Homo sapiens: one gene and its partner. The protein of the gene in region 1 purifies or fractionates together with the protein of each later gene. This does not show direct contact. Each region holds a gene or a part of one and is shown on either strand. Other genes may lie near its edges. The genes, in order: RFWD3 and COA1.

Region 1 (3,817 bases):
CAGCCTAGGCAACGTGGGAAACCCCATCTATACAAAAAATGTTTAAAACTTGAAGTATCTCACATTGTTCAGTTTGCAGACTTTCTTTCCCACTTATTTTCAGTACTGTGCCACTCTCCATCCTGAGTGTAAGCCTGTGTGGTTCAAACCTCCAGTTTTCTCGTGCATAGGGGGAGAAGGGCTTTGTTCTGTGTTTTGTTTTAGCTGGCTGGTGTTTGAGTAGGAGTCAAGCTAACTGCTTTACTGGCTTTTAACCAGCCCTTCTCTTTTAGCGCCATCTTTCAATATTGCCTTTTGTGGTACCTGGTTTTTACAGTCCCTTTAGTGGGAATCAGCTTGCTTCTCAATAACACACCTCACCCCAACCACTGTGCCCTTTGCAGGCTTTGAGTTTTATCTTTTGGCTCTGCTAAGCAGTCATCAATCATCAGTTTCTCCTTTATGGCCTTAAAAAACTGGTTTGCATATCATACCCTGTTTGCATTTGTGTCGTCCTGGTTAATTTATCCTTTCTTAAAAAAATGTCTCAGGTTGTGGGGGTCATGTTCGTGGGTTTTAGGAATGACTGGAGTGGAGAGAGAAAGATACATATATGTACTTCGTCCACTATGTTTATTAGAATTCCTTCCATTTATTCAGCCTGCACCAGTCTGGCCTCTGACCCCACCACTTCAGGGAAACTGCTTTTTTAGGTCACCTGTCATCCTCATGTTGCCAAATCTAGCGGCCGTTCTTCCCCCCAGTAGCACTTGACACTCAATTGTTCCTTCCTTGAAACATTGTTTTTCCAAGACACCACATTCCCATGTTTCCTCCTACTTTATAATCTTCCTTAACTGGCTTCTTTTACTCTGTTGTACTTTTAACAGTAGTGTCTCTGACTTTAGTCTTCAGCCCTCTTCTGTCATTCTGTTCCTCAGGTGGTTTAATCTGCTTTGATGATTTTAAGAAACATGAGTATTGGCCGGGCGCGGTGGCTCATGCCTATAATCCGAGCACTTTGGGAGGCTGAGGCTGGCAGATCACCAGGTCAGGGGATCGAGACCATCCTGGCTAACACAGTGAAACCCCGGCTGTACTAAAAATACAAAAAATTAGCCAGGCGTGGTGGCAGGCACCTGTAATCCCAGCTACTCGGGAGGCTGAGGCAGGAGAATGGCGTGAACCCGGGAGGCGGAGCTTGCAGTGAGCCGAGATCGCGCCACTGCACTCCAGCCTGGGCAACAGAGCGAGACTCCATCTCAAAAAAAAAAAAAAAGAAGCATGACCATTCTGAAGATTCTTAAAGCTGTCTGTTTGTTTTCATCTCCACTGCTACCACTCTTGCCTAGGTCTCTCTGACCTCTGGTCTGGACTCCCACAATAGCCTCTACACTGGTCACCTAGCTTATGCTCTTGCACCCCTACAGTGCATTCCTAACATAGAAGAAACTCCTTACCAAGGCCCATAGGCCCTTTAATAATGGTGTCCTGTTCATCAGTGAAACCCATGCTCATCAGGGACCTATGCACTGATTTCCTTCTGAGACTCTTCTTGGCTCTTTGCATAGCCAGCTGCTTTTAATCCTTCATGCCTCAGCCCAATTTTCACTCTTTAAAAGAGTACTTCCCTCACAATTGTGTCTTAGTTGGTCCTCTTTGTCTCCTCAACCCCAAACATCATAATCTATAATTTTTTTCATGTATTTGTTTATTGACATCTTACTTGCTAGAATCTAAACTCTGATACATGGGGTCTTATCTGTTTTTGCCTCTAGGGTGTCTTGTCTGCATAACAGGTGCTTAATAACTATTAGTTGAACCCCCATTTCCTCATAAGTCAGATGAAAATAAAAGCACGTGCCTTACTTCACAAAGTAATTAAGGGGATAAGTTATACTGATGTACTTTAAAAACTAGGTGGTAGGGAGGCACAGTGGCTCAGTCCTGTTGTCCTGATGCATGAGGAGGTAAGGCCAGGCATTCAAGACCAGTTTGGGCAACATAGGAAGCCTTCATCTATATAACAAAAAAAAATTTTTTTTTTTAGTTTAAAAACTAGGTGGTAGTTTTCAAACTGATACAATGGAATTAAAGATAGGAAACATGAAAAGAACATAGGTGCTTAATAAATATTTGTTGAATACGCTAACATGATGGAATTAGAGATGGAAAACAAAAATAATGAAAGGGATAGGATAAAGTTTGCTCAGCCTTTTTGGAAACATTAGGTAAGTTTCCATTTTGAGTTAGTAACAGTTAATTTTGCAAGTGTAAAAAATGTCCTTTCTCTATTTATCCCTTGTAACTGTTGATGCTGTGAAAGATTAATATTGCCTGCTAAAATTAGATACTGCATTATATGCATTTGATTTTGGTGAATGTCCATATTCAGCTTGAGAGAACTGCAAAGTGTCTGAGAGATTACTTTTAGACCCAGTAGTTTAATCTCCTTGGTTTATAGATCTTTCTATTTTGGAAGATACTACTATGATCACAGGACTTCATGTTTTCTAAGGGCAAACCGGAAAACTGGTTATAAATGCTTGTTATAGAGAGGAAAGTCCATTACCAAACACTTCTGACTTAAGTAGTTAAAATCTTCTCTTGAAGCTTCTCAGTCTTGCTAAGAATGATATTAAACATAAAATCAGAAAGATTAAATATGATTCTGTCACCTACATAGCATGTTTTATCTATTTTATTAATACTTTTTACAAATACTGTTTCTCTAGTGATGGCTCATGAAGCAATGGAATATGATGTTCAGGTGCAGTTAAATCATGCCGAACAACAGCCAGCTCCTGCTGGCATGGCCAGCAGCCAAGGGGGACCAGCCCTCCTCCAGCCTGTTCCTGCTGATGTGGTCAGCAGCCAGGGGGTACCATCCATCCTCCAGCCAGCTCCTGCTGAGGTGATCAGCAGCCAAGCGACACCACCCCTGCTCCAGCCTGCTCCGCAACTGTCTGTTGACCTGACAGAAGTGGAGGTCTTGGGAGAAGACACTGTGGAGAACATCAATCCAAGAACTTCAGAACAACATAGGCAGGGATCTGATGGTAATCACACCATCCCAGCATCTTCGTTGCATTCAATGACCAACTTCATCAGCGGACTGCAGAGACTTCATGGCATGCTGGAATTCCTGAGACCTTCATCTTCAAACCACAGTGTAGGGCCAATGAGAACAAGAAGGAGGGTATCTGCTTCACGGAGGGCAAGAGCCGGAGGGTCTCAGAGGACAGACAGTGCCAGGTAAATAAATATATGGATAAGTCTGTGATCATTGCTGTACTAGAAATTATGAAACTGAGGCTCTGCCATTCAAGGACTGACAGTGTGACTTTTGGCAAGTCAGGTAACTTCTGACCCCCAGTTCCTCATAGGTGGAAATAAAAGTGCTTGCCTTACTTCACAAAGTAATGAAGGGATAAGTTAAACTGTTGTGCCTTGAAAACTAGGTGGTAGTTTGTTGGCAATCTCTGTAGAGATTGGCTGTTGTTCAGATTGTGTCTTGTACACCAAAAATTCTTTCTTCACTTGCAAGTCTCTACTCACCCAAATTCATTATTCACTGGCATTCCACCTGGGGGCACAATTAATTAATTTTCTTTCATAGTCTTGGTTTGAACTTGCCTCTTGAAGGGCTTAGCTGTCAAGTCTTGACAGGGTTATTATGAAGAATAACAATTGCCTATACCCTGTCCGTTTTTTGGTTTTTTGTTTTTGTTTTTGAGACAGCGTCTCACTCTGTCGTCCAGGCTGGATTCCCGTGGCACAATCTTTGCTCACTGCAACCTCCATCTCCCAGATTCAAGCGATTCTCCTGCCTCAGCTT
Region 2 (3,817 bases), on another chromosome or scaffold:
GCCCAGGAGGGGGATTCCCTTGGCCTCTCCAGGGTCAGGTCACCTTTCCCTTCATTAGTGTGATGGGACCTTCAGAAGAGAAGCACTTTCTGCGGCCAAACTGAACACCCTGCTTGGGAAGCCTGCCTCTGCTCCCTCCTTTGGGCAGCTGATTATTAGAACTTACAGCTTCAGGGAGGTGCTTCCCGGAGTTCCCAGGTAGCCTGTGGGCTCAGAAGGATTCCTGAGACTGAGAGCAGTTTGAGTTGAAATGTTGGCTTAAATCTTGATGAATGAACATTTTCATATCCTGTTTCTAGGCCTGAGGGTTTTGTTGTTAATGTTGTGGTCTTTCTATTTTATGTCTCAACTTAGTGGAACAGGCAGTGTTGAGAAGTCAGGTATCATGGATTCTGGCCTCGGCTTTGCCATGGACCAGCTGTGTCACTTTGAACAAGTCATGGAATCATAGTAGGACTTTAGAGCAAACTTAGAGACTTGAGAGGAAACTTAGAGAAGAGCTGACCAAACCTCTTAGGTGTCAAAATAAGGCAATGAGTGAGGGTAGAAATGAGGTGAAGCAGAAAGGGTCTGCATGAGGTCAAGGCCCAAGGTCATCTGCACATCCCTGCAAAACACTGCCTGCCTGTGCTTTGGTTTTTGAGTCTGTAAAATGGACAATTTAGAGTAGATGGCCTTAATTATTCGTCCATCCACAGATTTCACGTTTCTGTTTCTACCCTGTACGTCAGTTGGATTATTTAATTTTCTGTGTAGTAGATTCTACCTGACCAAGTTCAATAAAGAAAATAAGTGTGTCTTTCGTCCTTAGAGTTTCATTCCAGGGCTTTATATTACAAGTTGGCAGTGGAGCAGCTGCAGAGCCATCCCGAGGCACAGGAAGCTCTGGGCCCTCCTCTCAACATCCATTATCTCAAGCTCATCGACAGGGAAAACTTCGTGGACATTGTTGATGCCAAGGTAATGTGCTTTCCCTGCGAACCGCAGGCTGGTGCCTGCTGAAGGAGAGGAGAGTCTACTGTCTCCTGGAAAGTCCTGGAGTTAAGGATTTGGGATGGGAAAATCCACTAAGTAAAGCTAGGTTTGGCACCTTTAAAAAAAGTTTTTCTATTATGGATTTTAATGTTTATATAAAATATATTTTATATTATAGATATTTCTGTATACTTTTCTTCCATTCTGGGGAATTGATGTGGCAGGGAATGCAGTGGGTATGCTGATGTCGCCATCTTGAATTGAAGGTAGTAGAGAAATGACCAGTGGTGGTTTGCTACCATGTTGGCTTTGATAGCTCTCAGCACTTTGGGAGGCTGAGGTAAGAGGATTGCTTGAGCCCTGGGGTTTGAAACCAGCCTGGGCAACACAGCAAGACCCTGTCTCTCTCTCTCTCTCTCTCTCTCTCTCTCTCTCTGTCTCTCTGCCTGCCTGCCTGCCTGCCTGCCTGCCTGCCTATCTATCTATCTATCTATCTATCTATCTATCTATCTATCTATCTATCTAATCTATCTATCTATAATTTAGCCAGGCGTGATAGTGCACACCTATAATCCCAGCTACCCAGGAGGCTGAAGCAGGAGGATCGCTTGAACCCAGGAGTTGGAGGCTGCAATGAGTTATGATCATGTCACTGCACTCCATCCTGGGTGACAGAGTGAAATTGTCTGTAAAATTAAAAAAAAAAGAGAAATGCATCTATATCCAGTCAGTGCTCATTCAAATGTACCCAACTCTTTAAACTTTGATTTTTAAAGTGTATTTATTTACATTGCTTCCACAGAATACCAACCCATTTTTTTAGCTATAACTTATCTTTTTGTACTTGATCACACTCACTTGCATGTAAAACACATTTGTTCTGTTTAACAAACATATTTTGAGTATATGCTCTGGTTTGAGAAATGATTCTAAGCTATGTGGGGAATAGAGGTGCAGAAGGCTTTTGGGGGTTTACAGTTGAAAATTCCTGAGTAAGACAGGGTGAGGGAAACCCTGTCACTATTGTGCAGGCCTAGGGGAAGTGGCTCGAGGCCTGGGAGATGGCTGTGAGGACTTTGAAAGGTGGAGAGGAACACCCGGCTGAGGAGCAGCATGCCTGGGAAAGTTCATCACTGTGTCGCCTGTCAGTGTGATACGGCAGTGGAGGCACAGGTGGGCGAGGTGGGTGTGGGCAGGTAGGAGGGGCTGCGGCCACCAGGGGCCACAGTGTCATCTTGGAAGGTGTGTGCTTGACTCTGGCAGCAGAAGCCCGTAAAGTATTTGGAGGATGAGTGAGGTGATCCGACCTACATTATTTTTTGTTATTTTTAGTATGTTCTTAATGGACCCAGCTCTAATGAGACTTTTTTCTAACTACAAAAGCAATTCATGCTCTGGTATTCTGATTAAAATATTCGGTTTTAAAAGAAGGTGGATTTGTGTAGATTGGTAATGCCCAGGGACTGGCTACGGGGAGCCATCTTTAGGAGAGAGATGTGGCCACACTGGTGTGCAGTGGTGAGAGCATGAACCAGAGGTGTGGCCTGGAGAAGCAAAAGACGGATGTGAAGCCATCGTGGCATCCAAGTGACAGAACTTGGTAACAGTCATGTATCAGGAGCGGGTGGGTCAGAGGTGATGGTCCAGTGTCCAGCATGGACGTGAGTGGAAGGACGGCAGCGACACTGCGTGAGAGAGGACATCCTGGAGGAGGAGCACAGGGAAGGGCTGGGCATGTGTGGAGTGCTCACTCTGTGCCAGGCCACCGGATTGCTCCCATGGTGTGGCGGAGCCTGTCTGTTGCTTCCTTGCCTTTGGTCACTTGGCTAGACCCCAGCAATCCTGAGAACTTGGAAAAGCCACTGGGTAGGTCTGGCTGTTGCGTTTCTCTCAGCACAGAGCCCAGCTGTAGCACTGAGGAATTGTGTGCCAAAGGCGCCTTTGCTGGGGCTGGTTGATGCAGCATCCATGATCTGGTGCTCCAGGAACCCCAGTGAGAGTAGGGTAAGGCCATGGTGGTTTTGGTGGGAGCTTTGTCCTGTCCAGCTTTCACTTTGGCCCCAGTGGTGCTGAGAGGGCGCCTTCCTGGGCTTCCCCACATCCCTGGGGCCTTGGCCATGCTGTGACTATGTTGGTTGTGGTGCTAGGTTCTGGCTTCTACTGCGGCCAAATGCTGTGACTCTGCAGTGACAGGAGTTCAGAGTCTGCTGCATCATGGCCACCTGGAGCCTCAGTGCACGCCTTCCAATTTGTGGACTATTTTTGACATTCTGTCAGGGTCCTTTCTTTATAATCAGCGGTTTGTGAGGATGCCTGTATACAGCATATGCCCTCTTATCCCAAATTCCTTTATTTGCAATTTTTACAGTTTTTCCAGAGGTGAGATGTTTCAGTTGTTCATGAAGTAATTGTCATACATTGGGATTTTTTCCCAAGTATGTGTGTGAGATAGTCACCAGTGACCAACACTTTGCTTTACCAGAACTCCTGCTTTAATCTTTGGCAAGGTCTGGCTGGTGAAGGAACCAACCTGTAAAGTGTCACATCTACCCATGGAAGCACAGCTGCCCACAGTTCAGACATTGGCCCCTCAGAGTTTGCTCTTCTTCAGAATCCTTCTTGCTTCTGCCCATTTCTTTCTCCTTCCTTTTTAAATTTTTTTTTAAAGCATCCAGAGATGCTCAGTGTATACTCTGTTGCTTAATTCTATAATTTCCAGAGAAAAGCTGTAGCTTGACTCAAACAGTGGGACCCTGAAAATTTGTTCTTTTTTAAAATTTTTTCTTGAGATGGAACCTTGCTCTGTTACCCAGGCTGGAGTACAGTGGTGTGATCTTGGCAC

The links.
Region 2: the proteins of RFWD3 (region 1) and COA1 purify together in Homo sapiens (affinity purification with mass spectrometry, with the first as the bait; one large-scale study listed by BioGRID). This does not show direct contact.

The regions. Positions count from the first base shown.
Region 1 is NC_000016.10:74,660,349-74,664,165, reverse strand, and holds part of RFWD3 (E3 ubiquitin-protein ligase RFWD3), read left to right. Parts: exon of another isoform or gene 1-2,210; intron 2,211-2,712; exon of another isoform or gene 2,713-2,714; 5' UTR 2,715-2,716; coding exon 2,717-3,234; intron 3,235-3,817. UniProt on the Homo sapiens protein: E3 ubiquitin-protein ligase required for the repair of DNA interstrand cross-links (ICL) in response to DNA damage. Plays a key role in RPA-mediated DNA damage signaling and repair.
Region 2 is NC_000007.14:43,642,394-43,646,210, reverse strand, and holds part of COA1 (cytochrome c oxidase assembly factor 1 homolog), read left to right. Parts: intron 1-811; coding exon 812-960; exon of another isoform or gene 961-965; intron 966-3,817. UniProt on the Homo sapiens protein: Component of the MITRAC (mitochondrial translation regulation assembly intermediate of cytochrome c oxidase complex) complex, that regulates cytochrome c oxidase assembly.